2 separate regions of the Homo sapiens genome follow, and region 2 is linked to region 1. Evidence: fine-mapped expression QTL. A gene starts in region 1. The other region holds a variant in brackets. All regions are shown on one strand. Distances are from middle to middle.

Region 1 (2,896 bases):
GCTACTCCGGAGGCTGAGGCAGGAGAATTGCTTGAACCCAGGAGGCGGAGGTTGCGGTGAGCCGAGATCTCACCATTGCACTCCAGTCTGGCGACACAGTGAGACTCCTTTACAAAAAAAAAAAAAAAAAAAAAAAAAAAAGATTCCCTCAAATAAGTTGAGGTGGGGGGAGGTGTATTGTTACAATGCAAATCCTTTCCCATAAAATCCTTTAATAGCTCTCAGTGGCCTGCAGAATAAAACCCCAAATCCTTAACATGTCCCAGTTTGGTATTTTCCTACGCTTGGCCCTACCCGGGCCACCCCTTTCCAGGCTCTTTAATGGCGGAGCCTAGCTCTTTTCTGCCATGTGGCCTTACAGACTGGTTCCTGGGACAAGAATTGGCTACTTCTCCCTACCCAAGCTTTCGTTCGTTTTTTTATTCCTGGCCCCCACCACCTCCCCCCCATTTCTCTGCTCTCCTGTTAATTCCTTTGGAGCGATTACTATTTGTGAGTAGACATCCATTCGCGTGCATTCAGATCTATTATCCAAAAGACAGACGCTTATCCGTCTAGGTAGTCAGGCTCCAAGAGAGGAGCCCAGTCGGTCTGACTCCCGCAAACTCCCGGCACCGTGTCAGCCACATAGTAGGCGTCTACTGGAGACTTTGTTTAGATCAGTTAGTCAACGCAGGCAGCAGCTGAATCAGGAGAGAGTCCCCAACGCAAAGAAAGGGGCTCCTGAGACCCTTCGGGGCGCCGAGGCCCAGGTTTCGTCTCCCTCTGCTGCAGCAATGCCGTCGACTCAAAGGGGCTCGGGGCTGGGGAACTGGTTCTGGCAAACAGCACAACCTCGCCCGAATCCTGGTCCGCAGTAACTCGATCTTTCCCTTAGGCGGCGCTTCGGAGGGAAGGCGCCTAGTTCAGCGCGAGGCATCACGGGATTTGTAGTCTCCGTGGGCATATACCCACCGCGCTTGCGCACCGGTGAGGCGCGCACCGCCCCGCTCCACGCCCCTATCAGGATTCGGGTCCTCGTGAGGAGCAGTCCAGGCGACAGCGTTCCAACCTAATACGCCTCTCTCGCCCGCCGGGGACAAGACGGGCTGGGGAAAGAATCTGCTCTTCGGAGGCTATCGCAGTGCCTTGGAAGGCGGCAGGAATCCGCACACACCCGCCCCGGAAGTGAGCCGCTTCTGGCGCGGGGCATTGTGGGGGGCGTAGTCTCTTTCTCAGGCGGTCCTTCGCGGCGTCCCCGGGGCCCACTCCCGAGCGCAGGCGGGCAGCCAGGCGGGCGGCGCGGCGCGGGCCGGCAGGAAGCGTATTCTGGGCACGGGGCGCCGGGCGGGCCGGCTGCGCCGAGCGGCAGTGGTGGGATACCACCCAAGGCCTCGCGCGGCGCCGCCCGTCGAGGGGCGGGCGGCGGCGTAGCCACTGGGCCGTCGAAGAGCGCAGGAGGCCGGTGGGCCGGGCCGGGCCGCGCGGCGCAGCCATGCCTGGCTTTACGTGCTGCGTGCCAGGCTGCTACAACAACTCGCACCGGGACAAGGCGCTGCACTTCTACACGTTTCCAAAGGACGCTGAGTTGCGGCGCCTCTGGCTCAAGAACGTGTCGCGTGCCGGCGTCAGTGGGTGCTTCTCCACCTTCCAGCCCACCACAGGCCACCGTCTCTGCAGCGTTCACTTCCAGGGCGGCCGCAAGACCTACACGGTACGCGTCCCCACCATCTTCCCGCTGCGCGGCGTCAATGAGCGCAAAGTAGCGCGCAGACCCGCTGGGGCCGCGGCCGCCCGCCGCAGGCAGCAGCAGCAACAGCAGCAGCAGCAGCAACAGCAGCAACAGCAGCAGCAGCAGCAACAGCAGCAGCAGCAGCAGCAGCAGCAGCAGTCCTCACCCTCTGCCTCCACTGCCCAGACTGCCCAGCTGCAGCCGAACCTGGTATCTGCTTCCGCGGCCGTGCTTCTCACCCTTCAGGCCACTGTAGACAGCAGTCAGGCTCCGGGATCCGTACAGCCGGCGCCCATCACTCCCACTGGAGAAGACGTGAAGCCCATCGATCTCACAGTGCAAGTGGAGTTTGCAGCCGCAGAGGGCGCAGCCGCTGCGGCCGCCGCGTCGGAGTTACAGGCTGCTACCGCAGGGCTGGAGGCTGCCGAGTGCCCTATGGGCCCCCAGTTGGTGGTGGTAGGGGAAGAGGGCTTCCCTGATACTGGCTCCGACCATTCGTACTCCTTGTCGTCAGGCACCACGGAGGAGGAGCTCCTGCGCAAGCTGAATGAGCAGCGGGACATCCTGGCTCTGATGGAAGTGAAGATGAAAGAGATGAAAGGCAGCATTCGCCACCTGCGTCTCACTGAGGCCAAGCTGCGCGAAGAACTGCGTGAGAAGGATCGGCTGCTTGCCATGGCTGTCATCCGCAAGAAGCACGGAATGTGAACTGGTGCCCCGGCAGCCTGCTGGACTCCCAGACCCCATCCAGCCAGGGGACCGCAGGCCATTGTTGAACTCCTCTATACTCCTGGGCACTGGTTGACAGTACTGAGGCTTAAGGCAGCTGGACTCTCTTGCTGGTGACCTGGCATCCTCAATTGTTTCCTCCTGAAGTGGAAGCTGGGGCCTTAGACTCTGCCCTGGTGACACCAGCAATTATGACTTTGTCTACCCTTCCTCCCCAGTTATTGTTGCAGATTCTGGTTAAGCAGAGGCTTCAGAACCACTGAACTTGAAACTTACCCTCTAGGGATGCAGGTGGGATGTCCAGGGACTATAGGTTTGGGAAAACCATACCTTAAGGTTGGTCAGCAGTCAGACAACTCTAATGTGTGTAGTGATAAGAGATTCAAGTAACATCAGTTCTCCTCCTTTTCATGCTTTTCCTTCCCAGGTGCAGCCTGTGATTCTGATGGGGACTGG
Region 2 (2,896 bases), 38 kb after region 1:
TTCCTTCAGTTCTCAGGCTCATTCACTCTGCTTTGTGGCTCTCTAGCTTCTCCCCAGATATCTTCAGCTCAGTGAGTGTGCCCCCTAGCCTCAAGGTTTGCTTGGACCTCTCAGCAGAATACCTGATTCTCAGCGATGTGCAACGGAAGGTAGGCTGCCATGGGGTACCCTGGGCAGAGTTGGGATTATAGAGGAAGGCCGGGGGGCAGGTGGCGCATCACAGCCCTTAGCCTCTGAGCTCAGCTAGGAACGTTCTGCCTGTGCAGGTCCTCTATGTGATGGAGCTGCTGCAAAACCAGGAGGAGGGCCACGCCTGCTTCAGCTCCATCTCGGAGTTCCTGCTCACCCACCCTGTGCTGAGCTTTGGTATCCAGGTTGTGAGTCGCTGCCGGCTACGGCACACTGAGGTGCTGCCTGCCGAAGAGGAAAATGACAGCCTGGGTGCTGGTGAGCTGCCTCAGGGTCAGAGCTATGTGTCCATATATCTAGGGGGTTGTGGAGGCACAGAGAGGGCCAGGGGCTTCATCATCCACACTGTCCTTTCAGATGGTACCCATGGAGCCGGTGCCATGGAGTCTGCGGCCGGTGTGCTCATCAAGCTCTTTTGTGTGCATACTAAGTGAGTGAGTGGGGAGGCCCGCCAGTGTCCTGTCTGTGTCTGTCTCCACTCTACTGACCCTTGCCCTTGGAGCACTTTATTCTCCCCCTTCTTTTCCTGCAGGGCACTGCAAGATGTGCAGATCCGCTTCCAGCCACAGCTGAACCCTGATGTGGTGGCCCCACTGCCCACCCACACTGCCCACGAGGACTTCAGTGAGTAGGGCGTGAGAGGGAGGTAGGGTAAGTTGGACTGACCAGGGTCTGAGATCTAACTCAAGTGGCAACTTGCCCTGCAGCATTTGGAGAGTCTCGGCCCGAACTGGGCTCTGAGGGCCTGGGGTCAGCCGCTCACGGCTCCCAGCCTGACCTCCGACGAATCGTGGAGCTGCCTGCACCTGCCGACTTCCTCAGTCTGAGCAGTGAGACCAAGCCCAAGTTGATGACACCTGACGCCTTCATGACACCTAGCGCCTCCTTGCAGCAGGTACTCTCCCAGGGTAGGGGGACCTGGGAATGCCTCAGCCACAGGCCACAGGTCTTATTTCCTGCATCTCCCCAGATCACTGCCTCTCCCAGCAGCAGCAGCAGCGGTAGCAGCAGCAGCAGCAGCAGTAGCAGCAGCTCCCTTACAGCTGTGTCTGCCATGAGCAGCACCTCAGCTGTGGACCCCTCCTTGACCAGGTGAGGCAAGGGTCAGAGATGGAGGATGGCAGGGGCTGGTACCAGATGATGCCAAGCTCTGGCTGCTGACACCTCAGCCTTCCCCCACCAGGCCACCTGAGGAGCTGACCTTGAGCCCCAAGCTGCAGCTGGATGGCAGCCTGACAATGAGCAGCAGTGGCAGCCTTCAGGCAAGCCCGCGTGGCCTCCTGCCTGGCCTGCTCCCAGCCCCAGCTGACAAACTGACTCCCAAGGGGCCGGGCCAGGTGTGTGACTGGGTGTGTGTGTGAAGTGTGGGGAGCAGGTGGGCAGCAGCAGGGAAGGTGGGTGGTGGGCTCCTCCCAGCCCCCTGCTGCTGATCCTGCTCTACCCGACATGGTCC[G/A]TGTTTCCCTGAGGTCATTTCACCCTCCTGTGTTTCCTGGTGGGTGTCTCCTCAGCCTCCCTGTCCCCACCTCCTCTTCTTGGCTGTGGCCTCGTTTTTGACCTGTATCCCCACTTCCCTGCTGCCCTGTCTCTCATTACTGCTAATACTAATGCCTCGTCTCTGTGCCCCCCATCTCTGCCTCACTTCCTGTCACTTAAGCCCCCATCTTTGGCCCACCTCAGGTGCCTACTGCCACCTCTGCACTGTCCCTGGAGCTGCAGGAAGTGGAGCCCCTGGGGCTACCCCAAGCCTCCCCTAGCCGCACTCGTTCCCCTGATGTCATCTCCTCAGCTTCCACTGCCCTGTCCCAGGACATCCCTGAGATTGCATCTGAGGCCCTGTCCCGTGGTTTTGGCTCCTCTGCACCAGAGGGCCTTGAGCCAGACAGTATGGCTTCAGCCGCCTCGGCACTGCACCTGCTGTCCCCACGGCCCCGGCCAGGGCCCGAGCTCGGCCCCCAGCTCGGGCTTGATGGAGGCCCTGGGGATGGAGATCGGCATAATACCCCCTCCCTCCTGGAGGCAGCCTTGACCCAGGAGGCCTCGACTCCTGACAGTCAGGTTTGGCCCACAGCACCTGACATTACTCGTGAGACCTGCAGCACCCTGGCAGAAAGGTGAGGAGCTTGGGAGGGGAAAAGTGTGCTAGCAGGAGGGGCTTCAGATAGATTCATCCATGGCTAAGTTGGCCTGTCCTCCCAGCCCCAGGAATGGCCTTCAGGAAAAGCACAAGAGCCTGGCCTTCCACCGACCACCATATCACCTGCTGCAGCAACGTGACAGCCAGGATGCCAGTGCTGAGCAAAGGTGGGAGCCACTCTACACCATTGCCCTCATGGGGGGATGGGCAGCAAGTGGGCAGGGGCTTACTCCTCCTTCCCCTTCCCACAGTGACCATGATGATGAGGTGGCCAGCCTTGCCTCTGCTTCAGGAGGCTTTGGCACCAAAGTTCCTGCTCCACGGCTGCCTGCCAAGGACTGGAAGACCAAGGGATCCCCTCGAACCTCACCCAAGCTCAAGAGGAAAAGCAAGAAGGATGATGGGTAGGGAGAAATCCTAGGGAGGGAGAGGGTGGTCTCTAGGCTGCCTCACATAGCCTGAGGTGCTTCTCGCCTATGGCAGGGATGCAGCCATGGGATCCCGGCTCACAGAGCACCAGGTAAGTGAATGAGCCCACTTTGTACTTGTGGAACTTCACCCTGGGCGGGTGGA

Evidence for each region. PIP is the estimated chance that this variant, and not a neighbour inherited with it, causes the effect. A credible set is the group of variants that fine-mapping cannot tell apart.
Region 2: its variant is the best candidate, but not a certain one, in a credible set for the expression of THAP11 in blood mononuclear cells (TOPMed, PIP 0.60).

What each region holds. Positions count from the first base shown.
Region 1 is chr16:67,841,081-67,843,976 of GRCh38, forward strand. THAP11 (THAP domain containing 11) reads left to right here and starts at 1,240. Exons shown (of 1, transcript NM_020457.3): 1 at 1,240-2,896. The coding sequence starts at 1,475. The coding sequence ends at 2,419. All of the region lies in intron 1 of CENPT (centromere protein T), which reads right to left. RefSeq lists enhancers at 954-1,003, 1,456-2,202, 1,914-2,073, 2,514-2,563 and a silencer at 1,254-1,433.
Region 2 is chr16:67,878,691-67,881,586 of GRCh38, forward strand. EDC4 (enhancer of mRNA decapping 4) reads left to right here. Exons shown (of 29, transcript NM_014329.5): 11 at 47-149; 12 at 267-447; 13 at 547-619; 14 at 722-813; 15 at 897-1,084; 16 at 1,160-1,281; 17 at 1,373-1,526; 18 at 1,867-2,300; 19 at 2,386-2,490; 20 at 2,575-2,727; 21 at 2,807-2,843. Among named protein-coding and RNA genes, the nearest start is that of NRN1L, 4.7 kb to the right of the region's middle. The variant G/A (reference allele first, on the strand shown) is at 1,643.